Linked DNA regions of Homo sapiens: regions 2, 3, 4, 5 and 6 are each linked to region 1. The links come from fine-mapping of genetic effects on gene expression. A gene starts in region 1. Each other region holds a variant in brackets. All regions are shown on one strand. Distances are between the middles of the regions. Region 1 holds the start of SEPTIN2 (septin 2). Region 2 overlaps HDLBP (high density lipoprotein binding protein). Region 3 overlaps ANO7 (anoctamin 7). Region 4 overlaps FARP2 (FERM, ARH/RhoGEF and pleckstrin domain protein 2). Region 5 overlaps FARP2 (FERM, ARH/RhoGEF and pleckstrin domain protein 2). Region 6 overlaps FARP2 (FERM, ARH/RhoGEF and pleckstrin domain protein 2).

The links. PIP is the estimated chance that this variant, and not a neighbour inherited with it, causes the effect.
Region 2: its variant is fine-mapped to the expression of SEPTIN2 in whole blood (TOPMed, PIP above 0.99).
Region 3: its variant is fine-mapped to the expression of SEPTIN2 in whole blood (TOPMed, PIP above 0.99).
Region 4: its variant is fine-mapped to the expression of SEPTIN2 in whole blood (TOPMed, PIP above 0.99). The same link has a PIP of 0.9 or more in blood mononuclear cells.
Region 5: its variant is fine-mapped to the expression of SEPTIN2 in monocytes after Pam3CSK4 (Quach 2016, PIP 0.95). The same link has a PIP of 0.9 or more in monocytes after LPS.
Region 6: its variant is fine-mapped to the expression of SEPTIN2 in whole blood (TOPMed, PIP above 0.99).

The regions. Positions count from the first base shown.
Region 1 is chr2:241,314,299-241,318,385 of GRCh38, reverse strand. It overlaps SEPTIN2 (septin 2), which reads right to left and starts at 2,461. Exons shown (of 13, transcript NM_004404.5): 1 at 2,404-2,461. It overlaps HDLBP (high density lipoprotein binding protein), which reads left to right and starts at 2,714. Exons shown (of 28, transcript NM_005336.6): 1 at 2,714-2,816. RefSeq lists enhancers at 1,264-1,988, 1,939-1,998, 1,989-2,713, 2,639-2,738, 2,759-2,808 and 1 more and silencers at 2,189-2,538, 3,079-3,458.
Region 2 is chr2:241,251,107-241,255,193 of GRCh38, reverse strand. It overlaps HDLBP (high density lipoprotein binding protein), which reads left to right. Exons shown (of 28, transcript NM_005336.6): 9 at 36-143; 10 at 1,697-1,801; 11 at 2,159-2,237. Among named protein-coding and RNA genes, the nearest start is that of HDLBP-AS1, 19 kb to the left of the region's middle. The variant A/G (reference allele first, on the strand shown) is at 1,761.
Region 3 is chr2:241,220,911-241,224,997 of GRCh38, reverse strand. ANO7 (anoctamin 7) reads right to left here. Exons shown (of 25, transcript NM_001370694.2): 22 at 1,722-1,812; 23 at 1,217-1,336; 24 at 1,043-1,093; 25 at 1-901. The coding sequence ends at 845. Among named protein-coding and RNA genes, the nearest start is that of ANO7, 34 kb to the right of the region's middle. RefSeq lists enhancers at 18-978, 1,100-1,269 and a cis regulatory region at 1,184. The variant C/T (reference allele first, on the strand shown) is at 2,155.
Region 4 is chr2:241,381,206-241,385,292 of GRCh38, reverse strand. The region is part of intron 2 of FARP2 (FERM, ARH/RhoGEF and pleckstrin domain protein 2); the gene reads right to left. Among named protein-coding and RNA genes, the nearest start is that of FARP2, 27 kb to the right of the region's middle. The variant G/A (reference allele first, on the strand shown) is at 2,525.
Region 5 is chr2:241,396,139-241,400,225 of GRCh38, reverse strand. The region is part of intron 2 of FARP2 (FERM, ARH/RhoGEF and pleckstrin domain protein 2); the gene reads right to left. Among named protein-coding and RNA genes, the nearest start is that of FARP2, 42 kb to the right of the region's middle. The variant AG/G (reference allele first, on the strand shown) is at 2,394.
Region 6 is chr2:241,455,752-241,459,838 of GRCh38, reverse strand. FARP2 (FERM, ARH/RhoGEF and pleckstrin domain protein 2) reads right to left here. Exons shown (of 27, transcript NM_014808.4): 14 at 2,917-3,092. Among named protein-coding and RNA genes, the nearest start is that of MIR3133, 20 kb to the left of the region's middle. The variant T/G (reference allele first, on the strand shown) is at 1,935.

The sequences.
Region 1 (4,087 bases):
TTAAATGCCAATGCTGAGGATAGAAAAGAGCAGGCACTTACCTTATCACCTATTACATGTATCTGATTTCAAACCCACACAGTGCAACATAGAAATACCATAGAGCACCTCTCCCGCACCTCCACAGAACCCCTCAGCCTCACTGAACCCTGTGCACACATATGGGAAAATGGAGAAACTATTTGTCTTAAACTGACATTTCAACTTTGCTTTGACTTTACCAAGTTTCTCCTGCCATCTTTTTTTTTTCCTGTTTTTTTTTTTCTGAAACATAACTTGGATCCACAATGTTTTCTCTCATAATTTATTAACTAATGTGAAATGGAAGGTGAAAGAGGAATTATGAACCTCTGAAGCACATGGTTTTCAGTGAGAAAGCCTTGATCCAGCAACACAAACTGCCAAGCACTGTGATTAACTTAAACACTGGGTGCAAATTGGACCAAAAATGTAGTCAAATGAAAATTTTGTTCCTTCAGATCGTGTTTATTCCACATGCCAGAAGTTGTTTAAAGTTCTTTAATCTTGACCCACAGCTTATTTCTTCCACAGAATAACCCCAATACACATAAAAAACCAATTTTCGCAAAACAAAAGATAGAAGATGAACAACATCTGGCGATGTAGAACCCGGAAGGTCCATGATCTTATTCAAAGCATCTGGATTCTTTGGATTCGGGGAAGGTCCACGTTCAGTATACCCACATAACACTCCTAACAGGGACTGGGGCAGGGATAAGTGGCATGTATGACTACTAACAGAACAGACAATACAAATGGCCTTACCTCACCTCTGCTGCCAAATGAGTTTTGGTGTCCCCATTCCTCCAGACAAAAAAAAAAAAAAAAATACCCACAACTTCTTCTTTTACAGCAGTTTCTGTATGCTGGTATTGGGGATAAAAAGGGGCCCTGAATTACATTTATGAATGATAGAGGGAAACCCTGGCCCCTTTCCCTAGGTCACCTTGCTAGTTTAAGAGCCAGTCAGAATGTAAATCTGATCTAATTAAAACGCTCTTGTTCTTTATTCCTGGCTGTGGCACTGGTGAGAGAAATCAAGGTGGAAGTTGAGGAAAAAAAATCAGGACAACCTTTATAGCTAATGAGATCAATGCCAAGATTATACATAACAGTACACATCATGAGTTAGGATGCTGGGTGGTGCAAAGAACCCATTAATGGGAGCTATCAAAAATCACTGAAAACAATGAGGCTCAAATCAGAAGTATCAAGAATCAGCTTTCATGACCCCTACACCATGATGTTTTTCTTTATGACGGCAGAACTATTTTGAAACATTAAATATATCGGCAGGCACTGTGATTCAAAAAGTATTTGAGAACCTACTAGGTGCTAGACACCAACCGAGGCAATGAGTATGGGTGACAACATGTGCCCTGCCCTCACAGCACCAATAGTCCACTGGACAAATACCATCTGGAACATCAGGTAAACACCTAAGCCTGTCTGGAGGAAATCTAATTTGGGCGGAATCCCACAAGCACAGACTAGGTAAGGAGAAGGCAGTTAAGGTGGGAAGTAGCCAGATTTAAGAGTTTGGGCAATGGCCAAAGGTGCAGAAGTTTGAACTACAAGAAGTTCAGTGTAGTTGGTTCGTGTGTTTCCGTGGAGAGAGGACAAGGTCTGGTGGCACTGACAAGAATTAGACCGAAAAGGTAAAAAAGCAAGCCAGGTTTGTCTGGGCCAGTAGGCCAGGTCACAGTTGGGACTCCACTGAGACCACGGAAGCCACAGGTTTGCTCCTCATCCCCGGGCCAACTCGGCGGCCTCCAACCCTATACCCTACCCCCTGCTGCCTGTCCGTGCCTCGCTGGTGCAGACCTTCGTCGCCTCTCCTCGCCGAAGGTACCCGCAGACAGGGCCTAGTCGCTCTCCCCTCGCTTATCCACGGCATCCAGCCGATGGGCTTGGAGGTTTGGGGGCTGGCCAGTCCTCCACGCCTCAGGGAGGAAATGGCACCGTTAGAAAGACAAGATGGCCACACAAGCTCTAAGTGTTTGTCGGGCCTAAACCTGTATCCTCCCTCCAAGCACCAAACCTCCCGACCTCGACCGCACTCGACGCCCCGAGGCCCAGCACCGACGACAGTGCAGAGGAATTCCCGCAGGGTCAACAAGGGGTCACCGGAATCCCCACTCCCGCGCCCGGGCCTGCCCGTGTCGGAGCCACTGTCGCCGGCACTAGGACCGCCCGGGACGGGGGAGCCCACGATAAGTGCCGAAGAGCCTGGGCTCGGCCGCCCCTCCCCCACACCGCCCCGCCGGCACCCCAGAGCCAGCCGACCACCGCCCGAGAGTATGGGACGAGCGGCGCGTCCCCCGCAGCTCCTCGGGAGGGCCGGCCCACAACTTGTGCGGGGTACACCGGCGAGACACTCACCCGCCAAACAGCCCGAGAACAGGCGCCGACCGACCGCGCCGCGGACCCGCCCAGCGCTCGCGGTCCGCTCACAGCCCGCCCCAGCCCGCCCCGCCCCGCCCAGCGCGCAGGCGGATTGCGTCACCGCGTCACCCCGCCCCTTTGCCAACTGCTTCCTGGCTCAGTGCGACCTGGCCTTCTTCCCCTCCCCCATGCGGCCGGCTTCCGAGTGCGCAAGCCCAGAGTCGTCCGCGTTGTCCGCCTCTGCGCAAGCGCCGTGCTCCTCCCACGGCAGTTGGCCATATAGAGGCTGGGGGTGGGGGGGGAGGTCAAGCGTAGCCTCTTCTCCTTTACCAAGATGGCGGCTTGTCCCTGTTTCGCCACAGTTCCTACCTTATGAGCTCGGTTTTCTTATGCTTATAAGAGTGGAACAGGTAATGAGAATCTTCGCCTTGCGGTGGGTAACTGGAGTGGGGGGAAGGCCGTTTGTTAGAAGGAGACAAGTGCCCACTGAGGAGGAGAGAGGCGGTCGCGGGAGGGCAGGTGGTGGCGGGAGTGCGGAGCGATCACGGGGAGGGGGAGCCTTCGCCTCTCCTCCTGTCCTCCAAGAAGATGGCGGCAGCACCGAGCTGGGGCGCCGAGTACGACTGGGCGGGGGACGGCGAGCGGCCGCGCGAAACTCGTCTAGCCCACCACCGCCGCCGTCTCGATGATCGGGGGGCCTCTCTGGGATTGGCTGCGCGCACGTCACGTGGGGCCGACGGGCCCTGCGCAGACCATCGAGTCGGGCGTCCCTCCCCGGGGACGTGGCCTTCCTGTGCCCGGGCTGGGGCCCGCCGCCCCGCGGGGGAGGGCGGAGCTGGCGCGGCCCCTAGCTTTCTCCTTCTGGTGTGGGGCCCGAGGTGAGACCTGGGGAGTGCTCCGCGAGCCCACGAGCAGCGACGTGGCTCGGGGACGGGAGGGTGCCGTGCCTGGCTGCGGCCTGAGCGGGATGGGCGCGGGCGGCTCCGGCCCGCGGGTTGTGCCCCGGCCCGGGGTGTCCTTTCCTCCCTCCCGCGTGGCCTGGAGGCACTGCAACTGTTCGAGACTCACGTCAAGGCTTGGCGCAAATACCCCTCGTTCAGGAAGCCTTCCTAGGTTTCCCCCGCTTAGAGGAAACACTTCCTGAGTTCCTAATGGCTGACCCGCATGGTGTTGGGAACCTGAGCCTTTCTGACACCGTGGCATGTTGCTAGGGTATTTTTGTGCGTAGCTCCTTTGAAAAGTGGTTAGGTGCTCAAGGCTAGCTGCTACATATCCTCTCCATTCGACTTAAAAAATGAGAGGGTCAGACTTGACATGGTGTTTGGACGCCATGTAAAATCGAAGGAAGTCGACTTGGGCTTTGCTTATTAAACAGTGCCTATTATGGTGAAATTAAACGGCTGAAGGAATGTGGATGAGTCGTAATCTTAAGGAACATGACGATTTGCCCCTCAGTTTTGCGTTTTATGTCCTCAGATTCATAGCTACCTATACCCTAAGCCCTCAATCAATGACTTCACATTTATTTGGTGTCTGCTTAAGGATAGTCACTTTCTTAGCAGCTAACTTCCTTAAAACCCTATTAAGATAGGTTAAGTCACAATTAGGGTTTTGTCTAAGGCTCCTGGTAGCGGCACATTGCATAATAAGCTTAATGTTCATTTAGGGAAGCAAATCTGGG
Region 2 (4,087 bases), 63 kb after region 1:
TCTGCAAACCCATGGCTGTTCTCCCATTTTCTTAGGCCAATAGCTTCACCGTCTCCTCTGTCGCCGCCCCTTCCTGGCTTCACCGTTTCATCATTGGCAAGAAAGGGCAGAACCTGGCCAAAATCACTCAGCAGATGCCAAAGGTAAGGACACGTTTTTCACCTGTTGTATTGAATTTGTCTTGTTTTCTGTCTTTCTGTTTCTGATATTGCTTTGTTGACCTTTGTACTGTGGATGCCCTTGAAAACTGGTGTATTTTTCTGAATTAACTGGCCTGTTTGACATGGTCAACTTCCGTGTTAGCTTAAAGAACAGCAGAATAAATGTCTGTAGATGTCTGTACCATCCTTCTGGCCTTTAACCAGAGAGGATTGTATGTTCTTAGGTTTCATAAGTATCTTAAGAAACATGTCATTTAGTAATTATGGTGAAATAACTTCATGATACTTTGGCGGGCCGGGTGCGGTGGCTCATGAGGTCAGGAGATCGAGACCATCCTGGCTAACATGGTGAAACCCCGACTCTACTAAAAATACAAAAAATTAGCCGGGCTTGGTGGCGGGCACCTGTGGTCCCAGCTGCTTGGGAGGCTGAGGCAGGAGAATGGCGTGAACCCGGGAGGTGGAGCTTGCAGTGAGCCGAGATGGCACCACTGCATTCCAGCCTTGGCGACAGAGCGAGACTCTGTCTCAAAAAAAAAAAAAAAATACTTTGAAGAGCAGAACTTGTATACAAATTGTATTAAGTGTGAATTTAAAGCGTTCTCAGTTTACCAAAGGAGATTGTAGCCCCCAGGAAACATGAACAAAAAAGAAATACCAGAGAATCCAACCATCATATTTAATTCCTGTTTTATTTAAACTTTGTTTCCAATTAATGTTACAGTCCTTTTTAAAAATTAAATTTTTTTTATTTTATTCCTTTTTTTTAGTGACAAAGCCTCACTCTGTCACCCAGGCTGGGGTGCAGTAGCGCAGTCATAGCTCACTGCAGCCTTGAACTCATGGGTCAAGTGATCCGCTCGTCTCAGCTTCCCAAGTAGCTGGCACTACAGGCGCCCCAGGCTAGTTTTCGTGGAGGCAGAGTCTTACTAGTTGCCCAGGTTGATCTCGAACTCGTGGGATCAAGTAGTCCTCCTACCTCAGCCTCCCAAAATATTGAGGTTATGGGTGTGAGTCACTGTGCCCAGCCCCTTTTACTTTGTATAGCTTCATATAAGGACCAGTCTGCCTTCCTTAACTCCTTACCTGGAGGATAATAAACCAGGAACTCTGGCAGCCTTGTCTATGTCAAGCAAGTTACTTTACCACCTTGGTACAGCTATACGAGTTTTAAAATTCCATCCGTGCTCTGTCTCATTCTTTATGCAACTCAAGAGGACCAGGCCTTGTAAAAGTTCAGATGGTGGAGGAGCATGTCGCATGTCGCATGCTTTATGTTAGTGGCTTCTGTGGGGCAAACGGTGTCCTTAGTGAGAGGCAGGATTATTCGGCCACAGTATTTAGTTTCCTGACTATGGCTCCCTAACCCTCCCTTTCAACTTTGTTTGATGGCTGTGGATATGTCCCTCCCTCCCTCACATCTATGTGAAGCAGTTTGGGATCAGAAGCCGCTCCGAAGAGAGCTCCCACTGGGAGCTCAGGGGCTGCAGCTGTGCCATTCTGTTTTAGCTATCTCTTTGGTTTTGGTGTGGTAGGTTCACATCGAGTTCACAGAGGGCGAAGACAAGATCACCCTGGAGGGCCCTACAGAGGATGTCA[A/G]TGTGGCCCAGGAACAGATAGAAGGCATGGTCAAAGATTTGGTAAGGTACCCCTTGGAATGTTGTGTGTGCTGGTGACAAGGGAGGCTCTGAGTTGGGCATGGGCGGTCATCTCTCGATGACATCCCACATGTCCGGGCACAGACACCCAGGGCATCCTAGCTGGGTGAGTAATAGGTTCTGAAACAACCAGAAGCTGGTCGAAGTCCTGGAATAATCGTGGGTGGAGGAAACTTCATCTTGAAGAAGGCATCTTTCAGGGGAGATGCAGGGGCAGTCTCCAACAATTCCTGACAGCTGAGTGGTCAGAAAAGGCAACCGTGGAGACTGCTGGGTTTTGGTTCAGCTCATTGGCCAAGTAACCAGGCGCATCCATGGACCTCTGTGCTCCTCCTGCAGATTAACCGGATGGACTATGTGGAGATCAACATCGACCACAAGTTCCACAGGCACCTCATTGGGAAGAGCGGTGCCAACAGTGAGTGAGGCTGTCTGTTGCGGTGGGGCCAGTGTGCCCTGAGACCCTTGTGGGGGGTGTCAGCTGTGAGAACTGTGACGTCCGTGCAGACAGTCCAGGCCCATTGCTGCCTGTAATGGGAGTTACAGACTTTACATCCTCCTGCCTGCTGGAAGAGGCCACTTTTCCTTTTCCCTTTGGTGCAGTGGTTGGATTAGAGCTGCTTGGCCAGTGGGTGAATTGTCACTTTTGGAAATCCATCTAAGCCCTCCCCAAATAACCCACAGAGGCCATGTTGAAGGCATGCCCAAGGGCAGCATTCTCTATATTTCCGTCAGACCTGCTAGGTTAGCCAATCAGTGTTGGTAGTACTCATGCCTTCTGAACGTGGAAACTGCTGATCTGGAACTCACTGAAGAGTAAAAACATTCTAGATTTGTGCCCAAGTAAAACAACATGGGGAGGGATACTTTTTTGAGACAGGGTCTCACTCTGTCACCCAGGCTGGAGTGCAGTGGCGTGATCTCAGCTCACTACAACCTCTGCCTACCGGGCTCAAGCAATTCTCCAGCTTCAGCCTCCTGAGTAGCTGGGACTACAGGTGCATGCCACCACAGCCAATTAATTTTTGTATTTTTAGAAGAGACGGGGTTTCACCATGTTGGCCAGGCTTGTCTCAAATTCCTGGGCTCAGGTGATCTGCCCACCTTGGCCTCCCAAGGTGCTGGGATTAAAAGTGTGAGCCACCACACCCAGCAGGGGGATTCTGTTGAAGAGGCAGTGATATGTCAGCCAAGGTCGCTATATGCCTCACCTGTGCCAGGTTGTAGGTGTAGCACAGTTACAGGACACTGTTGGAAGTATGTCATGTGGGCCAAGGTCGCTGTGTGCCTCACCTGTGCCAGGTTGCAGGTGTAGCACAGTTACAGGATGCTGTTAGAAGTGTGTCGTGGGCATTCTGCTGCAGGTCCAAGGATGTTTTGTGTTGTTTGTTTGTTTTTTGGGACGGAGTCTCGCTCTGTCACCAGGCTGGAGTGCAGTGGCGTGATCTCAGTTCACTGCAACGTCCACCTCCCAGGTTCAAGCGATTCTCCTGCCTCAGCCTCCCAAGTAGCTGGGATTACAGGCGTGCACCACCACACCCAGCTAATTTTTTTGTATTTTTAGTAGAGATGGAATTTCACCATGTTGTCTAGGCTGGTGTCAAACTGCTGACCTTAGTTGATCTGCCCACCTCGGCCTCCCAAAGTGCTGGGATTACAGGCATGAGCCACTGTGCCCAACCAAGAATGTTTTTTTACACCTCTTTGTTTAACTGTATGGCTATACTCACACACTCGCGTGTTCTGAAAACAAGTGCACACGTCGCGTGTGTTACCTTTGGGTGGAAGGTGAGAAGGCAAGCACGTCCTCCATTCCTGGATAGTTCAGTGGATGAAGGAGCCTTTCCCAGGTAGTGGGACACCGACCTGCATAACATGACTGACGTCCGTGTATCCGTTTTTGTTATGAGTAAACATAGCCTTGGCAGCTGTGCTGTGGCCTGTGCAATGGTGAGCTCTCTGGTGTCAGTCTTATGTTTTGTGGGCATTTTACGTGACAGCGACGAGAGTCTGTAGGCACAAAGTGACCTTTTTGCGCACTACTTGAACCACACATACACCATAAACTTGCTTTTACGGTTTTGTTTTGGTTTTGGTTAACTGTAGCGTTTGTTTAGGCCTGACACGGTGGCTCTTGCCTGTAATCCCAGCATTTTGGGAGACCAAGGCAGGAGGATCACTTGAGCCCAGGAGTTCGAGATGAGCCTGGGCAACATAGTGAGACCCCTGTCTCTACAAAAAAGAAAAATTTAGCCAGGCCTGTGGTCC
Region 3 (4,087 bases), 93 kb after region 1:
TGTTACAGGTATACACGTTTCCTCCTCTCATCCCAAAACCTCCCCCATTTGGGTGCTTGCTGGGTACTAGGCCCCAAGGAACAGAGGTAAAAACAGCAAGAGGGGCCCTGGGCCAGGGGCCAGGAGCTGGGAGAGGGAGGGAAGTTGGGCAAGGATCAAAAGGACACATGTAATTGCTGCAGAATGCAAGTAAAGCGGCACTGTCAGAGGCTGCCTGTAGTGGCTAGGGGGAAAGCAGAGCCTGATTCAAGAAACAGAAGAATCCAGAGGACCCAGATAACTGGGAATGGAGGGAGGGGTTCAACAGACCTTTGCTGTGGCCTGGGACACAGAGCTGCAGGGTCCGAGAGCTGGGGCATGTGGGTGATGTCCCTGCGCAAACAGGGCAGGAAGGGGCGGGTGGGTCCAGAGGACACGAGGGAGAACGGCCCTGCGCTCTGAAACATTCGAAGGTCACCAGGTGTAAGAGGAGAGGGCGATGTGGCCAGGGGCGGCGAGGACCACAAAGCCCACCTGCCTGAGGAGAACTGTCGTGTCCAGGGGCCTGGGGAGGCCACCGAGGGACAGGGTCCCTTGGGTGCAGGGGCCCCTTGGGCTTATGTCTGGGAGCAGGAAACAAAGAGGGCCTTGTGAGCTGACGGTCCCTCCCTGCCGGGGATGGAGTGACAGGCGCTCTGAGGAGAGAAGCCGGCGCTGGGGGGAAGCAGGCAATGTGCCCAGAGATGAGGCACAACAGCAGCCAGCGGTTCACACAGCCGCTGCCTGAGGGAAGAGGAAAAGGACGCTGCTCGCAGGGCTCAGGAGGGGCCACTCCCCTAAGGACCACCAGATGTCCTTCCAGGCGTCACTGCTGCAGCTGGCTGGCCTTGGGAACCGTGAAGGGTGTCCAGTGGGAGCTGAGCTGGGGAGAGGGTTGGGGGCAGGGACAAGTCAGACTAGGGCCAGGAGCAGGCCATGGCCACGAGGCACAGTGGGCGGCTGGGCAGGGCCCTGTGACCTCAGGGAGTGCACGGGGCAGGGGCCTGGCTGCTCCCAGACTTGCCTCTGAGCCCTCGGGCTGCTCATCCTTTGTTCCGTTCGTTCCAAAAAGAACCTGTCCCCAAAAAAGGGCAGCAAGAGGAAGAGGGATGTGACTCAGTGTCCGGAGGTAGAGCAGCCACTGACAAGGATAGGGAGAGGGCTGGGGGGAGGGCCGAGACTGGGCTGTACAGTTCACCTCATTCTCAGCCAGTGCCTGCTTAGCCAGGTAGTACTCCCGCTTCACTTTGATCTCCACAGACTCTGGGATGTCAGGCACCAGGAGGTCCAGGAGGCGGCCAACGGAGAAAACCACATGCTGGGAGCAGAGGAAGGCACTCACGCCCACCCAAACGCCCAGAGTGGCCTTCACAGGGCCAGGCAGGCCGGGGCTCCGGCACCTGCTCCCAGCTGTGGGTGGAGTCAGAAAGCAGCTGTGCAGGAAAAGGAACCCCAGAAGGGGCAGAGGCCACCCCAGCTTTCGTGGCCCTGGGGCTCCTGTGGAGACACCCACAATGTCCACACCACAACCCAGGGATGAGGCCAGGCAGGGAAAACGCAGGTGCAGAGAAGAGCTCTGATTTGACCAAGATGACACAGCAGGAAGTGACGGCACCGACCCCTCACCACGTGCTCGAATTAGGCAAAGCACAGGGTCGGGGCCTCATGCCATGGATGGGAGAACCAGCAGGTGCCTCGGCTACCTCAAACACAATGACGAAGGCCAGGCGGATGGCAAGAAGATTCCAGTAGGTCTGGGAATAATGTCCATCGTCATCCCGGAAAGCCCGATACCTGCAGCAGACACAGGACTCAGTGCGCGCAGCCAGGGCTGAGTGTTGGCTGGGCAGGTGCCTCTGGAATTAGCCTATCTCCCCTTTTTCCACCATTTCGCTCTCTCATCCCATGTTCCTGGCCTGGCTCTTCATCGAGGGTGCCTGAAATGGGAATTCTTCCCAAACAGGATACTCTGACAATACCTTTAACTGGTGGGTTCCAAAGGTGGATGTGCTGGGTTGTCCCCCATTGGGCTAAACTGGACCCTCCCCACCCCCCAGGTGGCAGATGCTTTATTTTCTAGTAGATGTGACAGTCCAGTACGTCTGTGCTTCTACGGATGACTTCAGTCTACTTACA[C/T]GGTGAAAATCCGCCGATTGCTGACCTCTGTGAGATCAGCAGTTCACCTGCTCAGAGACTGTCCCTGTCCAGCAGAGCCCTCCCTCCCTATCATAAGCTACATTCAGCTTCACTTGCTATTTCAGACTTTGACATCTTCCTGTGTCTCTGTCCCATGGTAAAGATGTGACATTCCATTTTCTAATATAAAGTTACATGTTGCACTCCATGAAAACTATTACCAGGGTCAACTTTGTAGGAAAATAAAAAAAACAAAAAACCAAATATTGCAAGTTAAAAATATAGCCATTGGAAAAAAAATCCCTCAAATGAATGGAATAAACTTTTAAGTGGCCAGACACAGCAGAAGAGAGACTGGGGACTGGGAGACAGTGACGACGAGACCACCCTGCGGCAACACAGAGAGCACACTTGGGGGGAAGCAGGCCACAGCCCAGTGGGAGTTCCAGACGACAATGGACAAGCAGAGAAGCACTGCTGGAAGGAGTAAGATGGAGACATTTCCAGAACTAAACAAAGACGTAACTCTTTCAGCCGGGCGCGGTGGCTCATGCCTGTAATCCCAGCACTTTATTTATTTATTTATTTATTTATTTATTTATTTATTTATGAGACAGAGTCTCGCTCTGTTGCCCAGGCTGGAGTGCAGTGGCGTGATCTTCGCTTACTGCAACCTCCGCCTCCTGGGTTCAAGCGATTCTCCTGCCTCAGCCTCCTGAGTAGCTGGGACTACAGGCCCGTGCCACAATGCCCAGCTAATTTTTTGTATTTTTAGTCAAGACGGGGTTTCACCGTGTTAGCCAGGATGGTCTCAATCTTCTGACTTTGTGATCCACCGGCCTCGGCCTCCCACAGTGCTGGGAATACAGGCATGAGCCCCCGCGCCCGGCCATCCCAGTGCTTTAGAAGGCTGAGACAGGTGGATCACTTGAGGTCAGGAGTTCGAAACTAGCCTGGCCAACATGGTGAAACCTCCGTCTCTACTAAAAATATAAAAGAGTAGCTGGGCATGGTGGCAGGCACCTGTAATCCCAGCTACTCAGGAGGCTGAGGCAGGAGAATCGCTTGAACCTGGGAGGTGGAGGTTGCAGTGAGCCAAAATCATGCCACTGCACTCCAGCCTTGGCGACAAGAGGAAAACTCCATCTCAAAAGAAAAAAAAGAAATAATCCCTTCCCTAGGCCAAGTGCAGTGGCTCAACACTTTGGGAGGCTGAAGTGGGCAGATACCTGAGGTTCGGAGTTTGAGACCAGCCTGGCCAACATGGTGAAACCTTTGTCTCTACTAAAAATACAAAAAAAAAAAAATCATCTGGGTGTGGTAGCGCACGCCTGTAATCCCAGCTACTTGGCAGGCTGATGCACAAGAACCCAGGAGGCGGGGGTTGCAGTGAGCCCAGATCACACCACTGTACTCCAGCCTGGGTGACAGAGCAAGACTCTGTCCCAAAGAAAAAAGAGAATAGGACGGGCGTGAAAGGTGGCTCAGGCCTGTAATCCCAGCACTTTGGGAGGCCGAGGCAGGCGGATCACCTGAGGTCAGGAGTTCAAGACCAGCTTTGCCCACATGGTGAAACCTCATCTCTACTAAATATACAAAAATTAGCTGGGCATGGTGGTGGGCGCCTGTAATCCCAGCTACTTGTGAGGCTGAGGCAGGAGAATCGCTTGAACCCGGGAGGCGGAGGTTGCGTGCAGTGAGCCAAGATCGCGCCATTGCACTCCAGCCTGGGCAACAGAGCAAGACTCCGTCTCAAAAAAATAATAATAAAATAAAATAAATAAAAAAATAAAAATATCATTTTCTTTGATTTGTTTCACCAGCAGGCATCTGTAAAGGTAGTGCTTTTTTCTTTTTTTCTTTTTTTTTTCCTGAGACAGCGTCTCATTCTGTTGCCCAGGCTGGAGTGCAGTGGCGCCATCTCGGCTCACTG
Region 4 (4,087 bases), 67 kb before region 1:
AGCAGCATCAATTTCTTTACTGAGGAAAATTAACAGCAATAAAAGAGTTTTAGTTTTTATAACTTACTTTCTAGCAACCATTTCCAAAACAAGTTTGCCCTCCTCTAGTGTTCTCAGTTTTCTCCAAATTTGATTCCTCTAAATAAGTAAAATTTGAAGATTCATTACGAAATCCTGTGTTTTACTAAGAGCTGATGAAAGACTCGCAAGATGGTTGTTTTTGCTTATGTTAAGCTAACAAGTCTAATTTTATATGATGTTAGGACTTATGTACAATTTACAATTTCATTTCTTAATACAATTAATATTCATAATTAAATTTAGGACATGTTTCTATTATTTTCTATGTTTTTAAGAAATTTACAATTGATGTAAATTAAAGCCAGAAGCAAACAATATAAAGCTGAATAACCTTGATTTAAGATGTTTACTTTAAAAGAGCTCACTGTGTATTTTTAGCATGTATGTTCCAACATTTTTCCTAGGATAGTAATGTCTAGAGCCTTTAAGCCATGTTTGAGTTGTCTTAATTGAAAATTGCTTTAATAAAAAAGAGGTTTTTCTTCTGCTACAAAGATCTGACTTTACCAGTTTCAAATATCAATACATGCAAAAAGCATATGGATGCATATTAGCAAGGACCAAACAAATCTAAAAAGTGTAATTATGAGAAAACATCATCAATATCTAAAACCAGAAGATTAAGAAGGAATGTATTTTTCATAATCAGGAATATTAGATTTATTTCAAAGAAATATATTTTAGATTGATCCATGAACTTATCAGTTGCATCTCCAGGATGCAACGGATTCTCATCACTAGCTTTTCAGAAGTTTATTAGTTCCAGGCAAGTGTTTAAGATTGTGGATCAAGGAGGAAAGAATATCTTTCTGACTTTCCTAGAAACCAGAAAAAGCCTTTAAGTAGGACTGGGATCCCCTCTACCACTGTGGCAAAAAGCTGCTGCTATATAAAGTGCAAAACTGTACATGTAAAGCATCATTCATGTGCATAGAACATTCCAGAGCATTCCAATAACAACAGTTGGAAGTGCCAACAGATACTTTTCATGTTTCTCTTTAATGACCAGTCTAAATTTCTCTAAGAATAAAAGTTCAGAAGTCGAAGACTGATGACAGTTTAGAAAAGCTGTCTTTGGGTGACTGCAATGTCACCCAAAGGCTTCCACTAGGTCATGGTGAATGCCAAGTGTCAGAATATCTCTGACACTTGGCATTCACCATGACCCAGCGGGATAACAGTGGTGGCTTCACAGAAGGGCAATGTTAGCACCTTCTGGAAGGTCACAGCAATGGCCGCCTTGCATCTGGTGCACTGAAAAGAGCTCACATTCCTTCAGGACATAGCAACAACGCTTCTTCCCACCAAGCCCAGTGCCTGAGAACCCTCTCCTCAGATGCCTAATGAGCCTCTTCGACTCCACATGGCCCCAAACCAAAGCAGCTCTTCCCATGGGCTCCCTAGTGCAGGACATGGGAGCTCAGGCCCAGTCCTTGCACCATGTTGGCTCCTGGGTTTCTGATCCTCCACATCAGCACCAGCAAATTCTGCAGGCTCCACCTTCAAAATCTCTCCAGGATGCAACTGGTTCTCACTACCTCCCTTGCTCCCTTCTGCCCAAGCCACATCCTGGGTCACCGCAAATGTCACCCAAAGGCTCCCCTCTTGTCCTGACCTGGTTCTGGACCAAGTCATCACGTCCTGGGTGGAGTTCCATTTCCCTCCATGTGAGCAGAAGCCCTCCTAGATGCCTCTCTGCTCCACTCCCACCACATGGTCTCTTGCTAATCCCCAAACGTGCCAGATGGGGGTCACCTAATGGCACCTGCATGTGCTGTTCCATCCACCTGAACACTGTTCTCAAGAACAGAGATCTGTGCCGGCCCCTCCCACCACAGGAACAGGGCTGTGGGAGTGTGGGATGTGGATCTCCATCTGAGCGCAGCTCCATGTCTCCTGCTCCCTCCGTGCTTTATTTCTCTCCTGGGCACTAAGCACTTCGCAGTATACCTTGTCCACTGTTGAGCTCCCCACTGCCGAACAAGCGCAAGGAGGCAGAGCTCCTGTCTGCTACGTTCACTTTGGCACTCCCAGCTCCGACGGCAGAGGGTGGTGCACACCGAGGCTCAGCAAATACCTGCCAAACACGTGCTGGCCTAAGGCTGTTGGGGTGAGCACAGCCCAAACCCACATCCCATCTGTGTGGCTTTCCGTAATTTTTCTATCCTTTCCTTCACCATAAGTAATCACTTTCTGCGAAGTCTCCAGCACTCCTCGATTCTTATTTCCTTTTTTATTTTACTTCCAACACAATGTATTCAGTATCTTCCCAACTCTTAAGTTATTTTTAAACTTCAAATATGATGTAGACCAAAAACACCAAAAACTGCACAAAACAAAAAATAAAACAGACAAGTCTGATGAAAATGTGAATAAAAATCCTAACTTTTGCCTATTAAACAGGAGATGTTACTAAAAATTGTAATATGAAATGTCCATAAAG[G/A]TGAGAGAAATGAACACCTGCATATACCACTGGTAGGGGCATGAGGTGCTTCTGCTGTTTCTGGAATACAATTTCACAACATGTATCAAAGACCTCAAAACTGTACATACACTTTGATGAAGAACCTCCACTTCTATACGTTTACCCCAAGGAGATAATAAAAAATGTGTATAAAGATTTTGTATAGACTGGGTGTGGTGGCTCACACCTGTAATCCTAGCACTTTGGGAGGCTAAGGCTGGTATACGGCTTGAGCCCAGGAGTTCAAGACTAGCCTAGGCAACATGGGGAAACCCCATCTCTCCAAAAAATGCAAAATTAGCCGGGCATGGTGGCACACATCTGTAGTCCCAGCTACTTGGGAGGCTGAGGTGTGAGGATCGCTTGAGCCCAGGAGGCGGAGGTTGGATTGCACCACCGCACTCCAGCCTGGGCAACAGAATGAGACCCTGCCTCAAAAAAAAAAAAAAAAAAAATAGATTTTGTACAGAGAAACTGAAAATAGAACACTATATAGCCATTAAAAACTTTTAAAAGACCATATAAAAAAAGTTCAGAATATAATGTTTAATTTTTGAAAAGACTACAAAAATGCACATAGTTCAGTCCCAATTTTGTTTAATATAGGTGAACATATAAAAGGCCAGAAGGGTATTCAGAAAAATGTGAATGGTTGTTCTCTCTGGGTAGTTATCTTTGGCTGTGGGCCACTGTGAGTTCCTGTTTTTCTGCAGCGTACAAGTATTAATGGTATAATGAAAACCGAATTACATTTTGGATGAATTCCCTCTAAAAAAAGAAGCATGAGGAACCTTGAGAGATGGCGTTGATTGGTCTTCTAGCTGCAGCATGTAACCCAATGGGCCTTTGCTCGACATGCAGGAAAGGACTTGGGGGGCTTCACCAGGGGCAGCTTCATCCCCAGAAAGCTGAGATGCTGCAGTGCAAGTGTTAAACCACTGTGAACACATAATCTGTGAAATAATCATATAACTTGAAAAATATACATGTAACACTTGGTAAGGTAAAAAAGTAGAATGCACTCTCTCAAAGAACAGAGATCACTGTAATTCTACCATCAGCTCTCTGGAGATTCATGACTACTTTCTATACCTAAAAAGGAACAATAATGTAGAATTAGCTTCCTTACGTGAGGCCGATATGACTGAAAAATGCCCCCAGAAGTGAAGTGCCAGCAGAACCCTGAAAAGCACTGCACCTTCCAGCTGTGGAGAAGAGGGCTCTGAGGTCTGTTGTGTTCAAGGATGAACAGAAGGGGAGAAATGAGGGTGAGAAAGAAATGGCATCAGCAAAAGGTGCCTGATGGATGAGGCAGGCTGAGGGGAGCTCAGGTGGGAAGTCCACGCTCCAGAGCCTGTGAACTCTTCTCAAAGTCAGCGGTCCTCAATCCTGCCTAGAGCACCTTGAGGAATTTCTCCACAATACAACAACAAGCAGCAGGCCGGGGTACAGCTGAGTCTAAAAGGTTTTGGGCACTAGAGGGGAGTGGCACCCCAGGACAAAGTGGCTGGCGGTGGCAATCAGAACAGGCCAGGAGCGGCA
Region 5 (4,087 bases), 82 kb before region 1:
CAACTACCTGGCTGCCCCTGTGAGTCAATGGGGAGGTCAGGGTTCCCCGTCCTACCTGAGCCCCTGCACTGCCTAGAGTAGTGCAGCCAGAGTGTGCTCCAGGAGCCCTGCCTGACTACACTAATGAAGGCGATAGACACTAACCACGCAGGTGCAAGCACATTCACAAGGCACCTGTTAACCAGCAATGTCCAACACCCAGGACAGGGTTTGTAAATACGGGCACAAAAATTCACAGTTATATGGGTATTTGTATATATACACACAAACAAACATATGTATGTGTGTTTAACCTTCAGTACAGGGAGGATGATCTTTTCATGAATGGTGCCAGGGAAACTGCATATCCATACAGGTGAAAATAAGCACTGACTCCAACCTCACACCATGCACAAAATTAATTCAATATGAATCACGGAAAGGCACAACAATAAAGCTTGGGGTAGGCAAATATTTCTCAAACAGGACACAAAAAACACTAGCTCCCCCACCCCCAAAAGACTGATATCGACTACCTGAATATTACAACCTTCTGTATATCAAAAGACACTGTTAAGATAGGAAAAAGGCAAGCCACAAAATAGAAGATAGTTGCAATACAAAAACCCAACAAAGAGGCTGGGTGTGGTGGCTCATGCCTGTAATCCCAGCACTTTGGGAGGCCGAGGCAGATGGATCATGTGAGGTCAGGAGTTTGAGATCAGCCTGACTAAAAATACAAAACTTTCACTACTCTCTACTAAAAACACAAAAATTAGCCGGGTGTGGCGGCGTGTGCCTGTAGTTCCAGCTACTTGGGAGGCTGAGACAGGAGAATTGCTTGAACCTGGGAGTGGAGGTTGCAGTAAGCTGGGATCATGCCACTGCACTCCAGCCTGTGCGAGAGAGCTAGACTCCGTCTCAAAAACAAACAAACAAACCCAACAAAGGTCTTGTAGTCAACATATATAAAGATCTACAAATCATAAGGAAAAACCAGACAACCCAATTAATGACAAATGGGCCGAAAGACTTAAATAGGCACTTCACAAAAGAGGATATTCAAATGTCCAATAAACAACAAGAAAAGTTGGACAATATTACATCAAGGAAATGCACACTAAAACCACAATAAGATACCACTAGACCCTCACCAGAATAGCTGAGAATATAAAAATGGATAATCCTAATGTTGGCAAGAAAAGTAGAACATCTGGAGTCTCAAACACTGTAAATTTGTATTATCTCTTTGGAAAACTGACAGTATCTACTAAAGGTATACAGAAGTATACCCTATAACCTAGCAATTCCAGTCCGGGGTATAAACCCAACAGAAATATCTGTTTATAGAGACCTAAAGACAAATTCAAGAATGTCTGGTTGGATGCGGTGGCTCACGCCTGTAATCCTAGCACTTTGGGAAGCCGAGGCAGGCAGATCACCTGAGGTCAGGAGTTCAAGACCAGCCTGATCAACATGGTGAAACCCCATCTCTATTAAAAATACAAAAATTAGCCGGGCGTGGTGGCACAGCCTGTAATCCCAGCTACTTGGGAGGCTGAGGCAGGAGAGTTGCCTGAACCTGGGAGGCAGAGGTTGCAGTGAGCCAAGATTGCACCACTGCACTCCAGCCTGGGAGACAAAGCAAGACTCTGTCTCAAAAAAAAAAAAAAAGAATGTTCACAGAAGCTTTACTCATAGGAGCTCAAAACTGGAAACTACCAAAATGTCAATTAAACAGCAGAATGGATAAACAGTGATTTGTTTTTACAATGGAATACTACCCAGCAACGAACAAACAAGCAAACCACAGCTATACCAACAACACTGATAATTTTCACATAGTACATATTGTATTCATGTACCTGATAAATATATACATACTTAAATGAACCTGAAGATCTGGCAAAACTAATTTATAATGCTAAAGATCAAAACACTGGCTACTTTTGGGGGTCATAACTGAGACAGGCACAGGGAGCCTGTTCTACTCCATTCTCTGGGTGGGGATACATAAGTGTATACATATGAAAAATTATCAAGCTGCACACATAAGACACATGCACTTTCTTATGTAAGTTATATTTCAATAAGAATGTAATTAAAAGGAAAAAAGGGCCAGGCATGGTGGCTCACGCCTGTAATCCCAGCACTTTGGGAGGCCGAGGCGGGCGGATCACGAGGTCAGGAGATCGAGACCATCCTGGCTAACATGGTGAAACCCCATCTCTACTAAAAATGCAAAAAAAATTAGCCGGGCATGGTGGCAGGCGCCTGTAGTCCCAGCTACTTGGGAGGCTGAGGTAGGAGAATGGTGTGAACCTGGGAGGTGGAGGTTGCAGTGAGCCAAGATCACGCCACTGCACTCCAGCCTGGGCGACAGAGCGAGACTGTCTCAAAAAAAAAAAAAAAAA[AG/G]GAAAAAAGGTTTAAAAAACCTTTGGAGTTCATGAAAATTGATCTTTCACATTTTATAATAATCCTCTCTACAAAAGTCTCTGAGCTGTGAACTTCGCCTCTGCTTGATACACCAAGAACCTACAACTCAATGAAGCAGCTGATTCTACCGCTGGACAGTTCTGCTTGAAAATAATTCCTAGCCTTTCGTCTAAATGTCTCTCCAACCTCTACCTCCCTAAATCCTCACCTGATCAATCTCTTCTGGACACAGTTCAGCTTACCAAGGTCTCTTTTAAAATGGTCACGCAGAACAGAATACATATCACAGAAATTACCCAAAAAAAGACAAGTTTGGTACAGTGTCTACACTATGAAGTTTGATCACTTAACATAGATCACTGTATGCAAGTTAAGTTATTCAGAGAACAAAACTTTATACTTCATGAGAACAAATTTTCTAAGGGGACTACACCAAAACACACATCAATCTAGTTTATTTATTTATTTTTATTATTATTATACTTTAAGTTTTAGGGTACATGTGCACAATGTGCAGGTTAGTTACATATGTATACATGTGCCATGCTGGTGTGCAGCACCCATCAACTCGTCATTTAGCACTAGGTATATCTCCTAATGCTATCCCTCCTCCCTCCCCTCGCCGCACAACAGTCCCCAGAGTGTGATGTTCCCCTTCCTGTGTCCACGTGTTCTCACTGTTCAATTCCCATCTATGAGTGAGAACATGCGGTGTTTGGTTTTTTGTCCTTGAGATAGTTTACTGAGAATGATGATTTCCAATTTCACCCATGTCCCTACAAAGGACATGAACTCATCATTTTTTATGGCTGCATAGTATTCCATGCTGTATATGTGCCACATTTTCTTAATCCAGTCTATCATTGTTGGACATTTGGGTTGGTTCCAAGTCTTTGCCATTGTGAATAGTGCCGCAAGAAACACACGTGTGCATGTGTCTTTATAGCAGCATGATTTATAGTCCTTTGGGTATATACCCAGTAATGGGATGGCTGGGTCAAATGGTATTTCTAGTTCTAGATCCCTGAGGAATCGCCACACTGACTTCCACAATGGTTGAACTAGTTTACAGTCCCACCAACAGTGTAAAAGCGTTCCTATTTCTCCACATCCTCTCCAGCACCTGTTGCTCCCTGACTTTTTAATGATCGCCATTCTAACTGGTGTGAGATGGTATCTCATTGTGGTTTTGATTTGCATTTCTCTGATGGCCAGTGATGATGAGCATTTTTTCATGTGTTTGTTGGCTGCATAAATGTCTTCTTTTGAGAAGTGTCTGTTCATGTCCTTCACCCACTTTTTGATGGGGTTGTTTGATTTTTCTTGTAAATTTGTTTGAGTTCATTGTAGATTCTGGATATTAGCCCTTTGTCAGATGAGTAGGTTGTGAAAATTTTCTCCCATTTTGTAGGTTGCCTGTTCACTCTGATGGTAGTTTCTTTTGCTGTGCAGAAGCTCTTTAGTTTAATTAGATCCCATTTGTCAATTTTGGCTTTTGTTGCTATTGCTTTTGGTGTTTTAGAAATGAAGTCCTTGCCCATGCCTATGTCCTGAATGGTAATGCCTAGGTTTTCTTCTAGGGTTTTTATGGTTTTAGGTCTAACGTTTAAGTCTTTAATCCATCTTGAATTAATTTTTGTATAAGGTGTAAGGAAGGGATCCAGTTTCAGCT
Region 6 (4,087 bases), 140 kb before region 1:
CCTGCCCCCGCCCCGCCCCGCCCAATCAGCCCAAGGAATACCGTGAGAAGACTCTCAGGGACAGAAAATACAGCAGCTGCCACGCTGCCCCCACCTCTAGATCAATGTCAAACCTGACCCCCAGCAAGCTGGGCTGCAGGCCAGGGATGAGACGGCGGCCAGGGATAGGCCCAGAGGAGCATGCAATTCCTGTGAGCTTCGCCACCTGTCCCCACATGAAGGGTCTATGTGCCCATGCAGAGCGTGGAAGAGGCTTCTGCCACCTTTGGCTTTCCTACCTTTCGACTGTGGCCGATCCTCACAAATCTCTATTAAAAAGGGGACAAACAGTGCATCAAGTGGGAGACACTGGGGAGGAGGGCACCAGCTGGCGAGGGTGGGCTGGAGGGTGGGCAGCTCTTTGCCCCTCCCCGCACAGCCCAGCAACTGGGTGCAAGTGCAAAAGCTTGACGGGTGGCCTCAGTGGCAGCACGTGCTTCTCAGACCCCTGTCACCCTGGCTCCCCAGGAGAGTGGTCTGCCAGGCCTTGCCAGCAGAACCGTCAGTGAATGTGGGGCCGGGGTCTCCCCAGAACCTGTTGCAGCCTGGCTGGGCACACTGGTTCATGAGGTCAGCACAGAGGGGTACTCTGGTGGGAACCTACCTCTGGGTCAAACCAGCAGCCCCTGCATGGTGATGAAAGGGCCATCCTTGCCATCTCGGAGCCCACCTGTGCTGGGCAACAGCCTTGCTATCTCAACTCACACACACAGAATTGAAGCAGAGCCCAGAGCCCTCCCTCCAGAGCCCAGGTGTTGAGGAGAGGCAACAGGAGACACCACGTCAGGGCTGAGGGTGCCCACACGCAGGGGCTGGGCCCAAGGGCTGCCGAATCTTTCTCTGCAGTGACCCAGCCACCAACTCCTCAAGGGCATGGCTCGGTGAGGACCCTGAGGTGCCCCCATCCCAGAGGGCCTTGCCATGCTGCTGGCCCCATGCCACGTCATGACTCACAGGCTTCTCCCAGGGCCACTTGCCACCAGCCCAATTATCCTCAGATGTGACAAGCTGTCATCCTATAGAACCATCTAAAGAATCAACTGATTTTTGTAATATAAAAAGTTACAAATTAAAATTTAGTCTTAATAACAGACTGCTTGGTAGCCATTTTTTTTTTTGTACCAAAGAAACAGTGAACTAAAGAGATTGTCATTAGGTTTCCAAAATAAAATAAAAAGACATCTTTTTTGGAAACAGTCTTGCTGCCAGGGCCCAGAACTAGCCCTCACTTGCAGGCCTCGTGCAGCAGTACGTTTAATATCCTTTGCTGCCTCCAGACCAGGGGGCTCCTTCCACTCCAGTGGGATCCAGGGGGACCCTCAGGGCACCAGGAAGGAGGAGACTGCCCTGCCTGTGCCATCCTACCTGCTGAGAGTCCCAGCATCCCACGGGTAGCCCTGGCATCTGGAAGGCAGGCCTTGGACAGAATATCCTCTGGCCAATTCGGGCCAAAGCAGGAGTGCTGAGGTGTCACAATGACATACCTCCCCCTGTACCAGCACTGACTCCCTCCCTCCTAGAGGCCCCATGGCCTCTTCCCATCCAGCTGCCACTCAGGGACCCCATGTCTCCCTTCTCTGTGGACTCCAGGCCCAATATAGTCTACAAACTCCCTGGACCCTGAGTCTTTTCTTTTAGGGTCCATCTGCAAAACCGTAGCTGTAGGCAGACTCCCCTGGGCTAGGAGAGTGGAGGCCACCCTGAGGCCACAGCATCCCTGCCCCTGGTTGCCCTGTGCCTGCCAGCAGTGAGCTTCTCTGCTCGGTCACTTTCTCCCTGCAGACTCTCAGTTTGTGCCCTTATTCCTATCATCTCTGATAAAAAGAGACCCATAGGGGACACTGCCTCAACTTTGTCATAAAGCCTCACCCCTGTCTGTGGCCCATGTGCCCCCC[T/G]CCCCGTGCCACAACAGCAGAGAACCGCCCCCTCGCCCCAGGTGGCTCCTCCACTGTCTCCAACATCGACACGGGGTCTCCCGCCCAAGAGCCTCTCCAGAACCCAAAGCGGTCCCTAGTGCACCCTCCCTTAGCACCCAGATGTTTCTACACTGGGTCTCCCGCCCAAGAGCCTCTCCAGAACCCAAAGCGGTCCTTAGTGCACCCTCCCTTAGCACCCAGATCTTTCTACACTGGGTCTCCCGCCCAAGAGCCTCTCCGGAACCCAAAGCGGTCCCTAGTGTACCCTCCCTTAGCACCCAGATCTTTCTACACTGGGTCTCCCGCCCAAGAGCCTCTCCGGAACCCAAAGCGGTCCCTAGTGCACCCTCCCTTAGCACCCAGATCTTTCTACACTGGGTCTCCCGCCCAAGAGCCTCTCCGGAACCCAAAGCGGTCCCTAGTGTACCCTCCCTTAGCACCCAGATCTTTCTACACTGGGCCTCCTGCCCAAGAGCCTCTCCGGAACCCAAAGCAGTCCCTAGTGCACCCTCCCTTAGCACCCAGATCTTTCCTCCCAGTTACTCAATTGTCAAAGTAGAAGCTTGACCAAGCAGGGAGAGAAGAAAGGAGCAAAGGAGGGAGGACGGGAGGGAGAAATGAGGAAGGTGGGAAGGAAGGAAGGAAGAGTGGGGGAGGCTGGAAGATCCAGCCTGACACATGGAGCCTGTGGGTTCCAGGGACCGTTTGCTAAATGAATAAGGAAACTCGTTTTTGTACGAAGGAACCTGGAGTCCCAGAGATAAGAGGAAAGTCTCAGGAAGGTTTTGCTAGGGAAGGCGGCCCAGTACCTCCTCTCTGCTCAGGAGGCTGGTAAGGCGGCTGTGAGTGCAGAGCCCTTCCCTGCCCCGCCCCAGGGTCCCCACCAGCACCACCCGAAGGAACAGTGAAAACAGGCCCACCCTGCAACCCTCTGCTAGCTTCTCAGCCTCGAGGGGCCCACCTTGTGTCTGGGCTCCTCGCAGTCCATCCCGGCTCCGCCAGCATCACTGAGGACAGGGCTCAGGAGTGGGGATGAGCCCTGTTCAGCTGGGCCCAAAGGCACCTGAAATGCAGGGCTCAGACTCAGGGGGCTCTTCCGGCTGGAGGGAGAAGGCTGAGGACTCTTCGTGGAAAGGCCTGGAAATGAACGGGGAGGGGGATGGAGCGAGAAATGAGAAAGGGCTGTGAGGCTGGCTTAGAGCCGCTACTACTCTCCTGACCATTCAACCGCCAGCCTCACACAGTGCCAGGCGCTTCCTGTAAAATGTGTATGTACAGCCTCTATCACACACAATTCTAAACATGACATAAAATGAAAATGAGGGTTGATGGTTCATCTACCCAATTTCAGAGAGCAATCCACAGACAGTGTGGATCCTCCCCGGACTCTAGGGGGGCCTGGATACCAACCTTGTGTTTCTAGGGGCTTCTTTTGGGCTCTGCAGAATATGTAACTATGATAAAACTAAGCACCACAAAGTGTGTAAAGCAAAAGGCACCACCAGGACGGGGGAACACTTTCTATGTGCATTGCTAGAGGTTAGAGACTTAAGATGTCAAACCAGGGCTAACATCTGAAAAGACAATGTCTATTTTAAGGCCAAACTTATTATTCATTAAAAAACGGATCATATAAAACTGCTCAATTCATGATACTGTTTTCCAGTTCCTTGAGTTTTTCATTAATGGGGATTTTATTTTGGTTTTCTAAAACACAGTAATAATTTTCCCCTTCTTAAAACCATGTTTGTTTTCGAATAAATAGGTGCCAAATTTGCAGCCCAATTCTAAAGATGATGAAATATATTTCATTGTGTATTTTATAATAAAAAAATCCTTTTCTATTTAAAAAAATTCTCAAAGGTTAATTTCTAATGTTTTTCTATGGGAAACCAGTAACTATTAAGTGCCAAATTTTAAAGATAACTTTACCTCGCTAACACGGTGAAACCCCATCTCTACTAAAAATACAAAAAATTAGCCGGGCATGGTGGCAGGTGCTTGTAGTCCCAGCTACTCGGGAGGCTGAGGCAGGAGAATGGCATGAACCCAGGAGGCAGAGCTTGCAGTGAGCCGAGATCGCACCACTGCACTCCAGCCTGGATGACAGAGCAAGACTCCATCTCAAAAAA